Linked DNA regions of Homo sapiens: region 2 is linked to region 1. The links come from fine-mapping of genetic effects on gene expression. A gene starts in region 1. The other region holds a variant in brackets. All regions are shown on one strand. Distances are between the middles of the regions.

The links. PIP is the estimated chance that this variant, and not a neighbour inherited with it, causes the effect. A credible set is the group of variants that fine-mapping cannot tell apart.
Region 2: its variant is the best candidate, but not a certain one, in a credible set for the expression of GLI4 in whole blood (TOPMed, PIP 0.57).

Annotation. Positions count from the first base shown.
Region 1 is chr8:143,265,792-143,268,689 of GRCh38, reverse strand. GLI4 (GLI family zinc finger 4) reads right to left here and starts at 1,245. Exons shown (of 4, transcript NM_138465.4): 1 at 1,206-1,245. RefSeq lists an enhancer at 1-229 and silencers at 790-909, 1,070-1,779.
Region 2 is chr8:143,238,677-143,241,574 of GRCh38, reverse strand. No RefSeq gene overlaps it. Among named protein-coding and RNA genes, the nearest start is that of ZFP41, 6.8 kb to the left of the region's middle. The variant A/G (reference allele first, on the strand shown) is at 1,439.

The DNA.
Region 1 (2,898 bases):
AGGCATAGGGAGTCTTCCAGAAAAACCTCAGCTGCTGGCCCTGTGGGAGGGCTGAAAACCGAACCATGCCTGCTGCGCATGAGTGTTTTGGAGGAAATCTTAATAAGGTTTTTCCCGAACAGCAGAGAAGAGACGTTTCCAGAGGGCAACTCTCTTCCTCAGACCCTACAGAGCCCTCAGAGACTGCAGGCTGGAATCCCCTAGTCCAGCCCTGCAGCAGCACTGGGAGACTCACTCAGGGCTCCAAGACACTTCTTAGTTTACTTTGCAAAAACGGCTTGAGTCCAATGTGAAAAGTGACTTTTCTTTCATACTGTGATAGAGTAGGAACTCCTAATCTGGGGCAGGGAGTGAAGAAAGGAACGGGAAAAGAGGACAAAAGTTAACGGATACTCAGATCTAAGAACAGCAGACAGTGCCTGCTTCGAGGAAGTGGGAGAGGCAGCTCCCACACGGCCGCCACCCCAGTGCCCGGCTTCTGGGCCAGCCTCCATCCCCTAATGATGGGAAGGGTCAGGTCACCAGGTAGGTGGCCACTGGGTGCAGGTCCTCCACCCTGAAGTCACATCTCAAGTTACTTAGTTAACTTACTGGGGACACCTGGTAAAAGGGCCTGCTCGATCACCCCGACCCTGGCTTGGCCCCCAGGACTGAGCAGAGGCGACCATCACAGCGTGGACGCCCCTTCACCCCCAGGGACGCACAAACTCTGAGCTCCAGACTGAAGGGGGAAGGGCACTCCTGCCAGCGGCTCGGGGGAAGCATCCTCTGCCCCTCTGTTCCCAGCCCCGTGGGAGCGGACCCAATCGCCGGGAGCTCGGCACAGAGCGCGTCCGCCCGGCGGTGCGGCGCTGGGGTCCGGCGGCTCCTCGCTCCGGAGCGGCGGGACCTCCGGGCCTCAGTTTCCCATCTGCAGAGTGGCGATGACGACAGCTGCCGTCACTGGGTGCCTGGGAAAGGCGCCCTGCGAACGGACACCCGCTATCGCCAGGGCCGCTGGGCGGGGCGGTCCGCTGCTGCTCCGCGACCCCCAGGAGCCCACCCCGCTCCCCGGGCTTGGCCCAAGGCCAAGGTCACGGCGAGCGGCGGCTGCAAGGGCCGCACGGCCCGGCTGGGCAGGGCTGCACCGCGGAGTACGGCGCACGAGCTCGGACTGGGCTGGTCCCAGGCACCCGGAGCCGCCGCCGCCGCCCGCGCCCACTCACCTTCCGAGCGGGAGGAGGACGCCGCGCGCCGGACGGAAGTGTCCGGCCCCGCCCCACTCCGCCCGGCCGGCGCGCACTTCCGGGACGCTCTGGGCCCCGGGAGGACCGCACGCCTCGGTGGCCGTGTGGGGGCGGGGCCGGGAGCGAAGAGGAGGCCTTTCCCCGCCCCTCCCCTCGTGGGCTGCGCCCGCGCGTGGCTTTCGCGTACACGCTGGCCCGGATCCCGCCCGCGCCTGCAAAGCGCCCGGGCGCGGGGAGCGGCGCTGCGTGGGGCGCAGAAGCCGGCGCCTCGGAGCCTCCTTCCCGACGCCGGCCCTGCACCGCCCGGGGAGCCAGCGCGGGGCCGGGCTTCGGGAGATGACGGCGCCGTCCCCACGCTGCCCGCGGCCCCTCCGTGCACTCCAGGCCTCCGGGGGTCCTCGGCTGGAGTTGCTTCCACGTTCAGCTCGCGAGTCCCCCCCGCCGCCCTCTTGGGTTCCCTCCTCGGGATGTGTCCGCAGCGATGGTCACCGGCGGCCGGGAACCGCTGCGAGACGCGCGACCTCCCGCTCCCCTCGCGGGGGCCCCAGCGCCCTCGATTCTGCCTGCTTTCCAGGGGCGTCCCCGGGAGCCTGAGGAGGATGTTACAGGTTCCCCAAAGCCCCTTCATGGACTCCTTCCTCATTTTCCTCTTGTTCAGCCACAGTTTCTCCCTCAGTTCTGTGCTTACGACCTGAAAAGAGAAAATTGTCACTTTCTGGGAAAAATAAACGGCCGGGGAGGGTTCTTTGACCGTTTTGAGCAGGGGTGCAGAGAGCCGAGGCGAGGGGACCCCTGAGCTGGAGGGGCACGCGGAGCAGAGGGCGGGGGGGCCTGCAGACGGGCAACAGCTGCCAGGGTGGACGCTCAGGGCTGTGTGGGTGGAGGAGCCCCCAGGCTGATAATATGTAAAAATCTCTAAACTCTACCGCAAGAAAACAAACATTCCAGTTAGAAAATTGGCAAGAGCCGCAACAGACGTTTGACCGAAGAGGGCACAGGGATGGCAATAGGCTCGGGAAGGGATGGCTGTCAGGGAAGGGCCGGCCAGCATCGCGGTGGGTGCCACTGCACACTTGCCAGGTGGCTCAGGTAAAAACTGCTAACAAGTGCCAAGCATCACTGAGGTCGCGGAGCAGCTTGGGACATCGCCAGTGGTAAGGCAAAGTGGTGCTGCCATTCTAGAAATTGGCTTGGTAGTTTCTTAAAAAGTTATAAGTAGCGCCGGGCGCAGTGGCTCACGCCTGTAATCCCAGCACTTTGGGACACTGAAGTGGGTGGATCACCAGAGGTGGGGAGTTTGAGACCAGCCTGACCAACAGGGAGAAACCCCATCTCTACTAAAAATATAAAAAAGCTACCCGGACACGGTGGCGGGCACCTGTAATCCCAGCTACTTGGGAGGCTGAGGCAGGAGAATCACTTGAACCGGGAGGCGGAGGTTGCATTGCGCCGAGATCGCGCCACTTCACTCCAGCCTGGGCAACAGAATGAGACTCTGTCTCAAAAAAAAAAAAAAAAAAAAGGAACTAGTACTATATCTGATACTGTTTGGAAGTGAGCCCCCTGCACATCTCATGGAAATGTGGCCCCTGATGGTGGCGGTGGGACCTGGTGGGAGGCTATTTGGGTCATGAGTAGCTTGGTGCCCTCTCCTTGGTGATGAGTGAGAGCT
Region 2 (2,898 bases), 27 kb after region 1:
GAGCCACTGCACCCGACTACTCCTCCCTAACTTTTAACCCTCTTCTCTCCTGCGTTACCTTCCCAAGACTATCCTCCTGTGTCCCACAGTCTTTTACTATTTTGGCTACCAAGTCTCACTCTGTTGCCTCAGCTGGTCTAAAACTCCTGGGCTCCAGCAGTCCTCCCACCTCAGCTTCCCAGAGTGTTGGGATTACAGTCGTGAGCCGCTGCACCTGTTCCATAGTCATTTTAAATTTCTTTCCAAAATGTAGACACTTTTCTGTATTTTGGCACTCAGATGGACTTTCTTTTTCTGGAAAATGTTTTGAGAGCAACCTCAGGCCCACAGCCAGTTCCTTTTCTCTCTTCTGTGCAGTTTTCCTGGGTGGCCCTTACTTTGTGAAGGTCTGTGCAGGACACTGGAGAGAGAGCTCACTGGGATTTTGTGTTTTCTTTTCTTTTCTTTTTTTTTTTTTGAGACAGATTTTCGCTCTTGTCCGCCAGGCTGGAGTCCAGTGGTGCAATCTCGGCTCACCGCAACCTCCGCCTCCCGGGTTCAAAAGATTCTCCTGCTTCAGCCTCCCAAGTAGCTGTGATTACGGGCACGCACCACCACATCCAGATAATTTTGTGTTTTTAGTAGAGACGGGGTTTCTCCATGTTGGTCAGGCTGGTCTTGAACTCCCAATCTCAGGTGATCCACCCACCTCGGCCTCCCAAAGTGCTGGGATTACAGGCGTGAGCCACCGCGCCTGGCCTGCGTTTGCTTCTTTTTCCCTTTTTAATGCGGCTACGAGAACCTTAGCAGTGACCCCAGGACTGCTGTGCTGAACTCCTGAACCGCAGTGTTCGCTTCTTTACTGCCCAAGGATAAGAGCGTCAGCTCCACCAGGGTGCTTCACAGACAGCGGGCGCTCAGCTAGTGCCTGTGGACTGATTGACTGGCTGACTGATGAGCCCTGGGGTGCGGGTCCTCCTGGGGCCCAGGACTTGCACTGGAACCCCTGTGGGCATTGAGCCTGGGATACCAGCCTCAGTGGGTGACTGAGCCACTGACACTGCCCCTGGAGAGCCCATCGCCCTGGTGCCCTGTGCCTGTGGCATCCTTCTCCGCAGCGGCTGGCACAGGCAACAGCTGTGGCTGAGATCCTCCCGGCATCCTGGGCACAGGCATCAATCACCTAGTTTCGTGCTTGACTCACTGCTGGTGGTGTCTCCACTTTGCAGATAAAACAATGAAGGCTCAGAGGGTTTAAGAAACTCGACAGTGTCAAAGCACTGGGCCTGGACATCAGCACCACTGCTGGCTGTGTGCCTTGGGATGGTCAGTAGATTTCCTGTCAAATGGGGCAAGATGATAGCACCTGCCCTGTGGGGTCATTGTGAAGGCTACGTGAAAAGTCCTCACAAAGCCCTTAGTGCAGTACCCACTTGCTAAACTTGGCTTGTAATTTATA[A/G]GTTATTTTAAAATGGGGGCAATGTGCCCACTGGCTGCACCCATGGCCGTCTCGGGAGCTGCCATTGTCAGTGACTGGTGTGGGGCCAATCAGCACCTCTGCCCTCATTTCACTCTCTCTCCAGCCCAAACGTTCAAGGGGCTTAAAGAATCTTCCCACTGGATGGACTGAGCCATCCTAAAACCATCCTAAAACAGCGCCACACTTTTAGAAGCCAGAATCTAACTTTTAGAAGTTAGAAAGTTTTGATTCCGGTCGGGCGCGGTGGCTCACGCCTGTAATCCCAGCACTTTGGGAGGCCAAGGCAGGTGGATGATGAGGTCAGGAGTTTGAGACCAGCCTGACCAACACGGCGAAACCCCGTCTCTACTAAAAATACAAAAAAAATTAGCCGGACATGGTGGCGGGCACCTCTAATCCCAGCTACTTGGGAGGCTGAGGCAGGAGAATCGCTTGAACCCAGGAGGCCGAGGTTGCAGTGAGCTGAGAATGTGCCACTGTACTCCAGCCTGGGCGATAGAGCAAGACTCTGTCTAAAGAAGAAAAAAAAGTGAGTTTTGATCCCAAGGACATTCCAGTCATACTAATGGATCCGTCAGGGTTGCATCAGAGGAACAGAGCCCACAGAGACAGGTGTGTAGACGCAGGCCTGCGCTTTGCTTTGTTCCAGGGCTTGGACCTCCCAGGACTGTGGGGCCTGCTGAGCGGTGTGCTGGAGCCTGGATCCACAGGCAGGCGCCCAGAGTCTCGGACAGCAGGTGGGATGGAGCCAAGGCAGGCGGGTCTGGGTCTGGATTCCAACCCCTGCACCCCACTGCTGATGTGGGCAAGCTCCTCAACTTCAGATGCCCTCAGCGTTCCCACCCGCACGATGTTCAGATGCCCTCAGTGTTCCCTCCTGCACAATGTTCAGATGCCCTCAGCGTTCCCTCCTGCACAATGTTCAGATGCCCTCAGCGGTCCCTCCTGCATGACGGGGTAGGAACAGGATCTCATGGGATCTTCAATGAAGACCAAATGGTGTGAAGATGGAGGATGCCCAGGATGGTGTGGGGCATGGCAGGGCCTAGGGAGTGCCCAGGTCTTCCCTGCCTGGCGGGACAGCTGCTACCTTGGTTTTCACGCCCTTTATGGCATTGGTTCCTAAACCTGCTCATAATCAGAATCAGTTTGGAATCTTTTTAAGAAAAAAAAAAAAAAAAAAAGGGATTTCCAGACATCATCCAAGAGCTGGTCAAACAGAATGCCATTGGGGTTAAGCCTCATAACCTGTAATTTTAGAAGCTTCCCAGTGACTCTGATGATCAGGCAGGGCCTGAGTGGCAGCAGATGGCACAAGCTCCCTGGTGCAGTGGGGCACAGCTCGGGCTGTTCATTTGAAACTCCTAAGAGCTTGGAGAAATGCTGACCAGTCCCCCACCTCTAAGAGATCCCACTGTAGCTGGGGTAGGGGCAGAGGG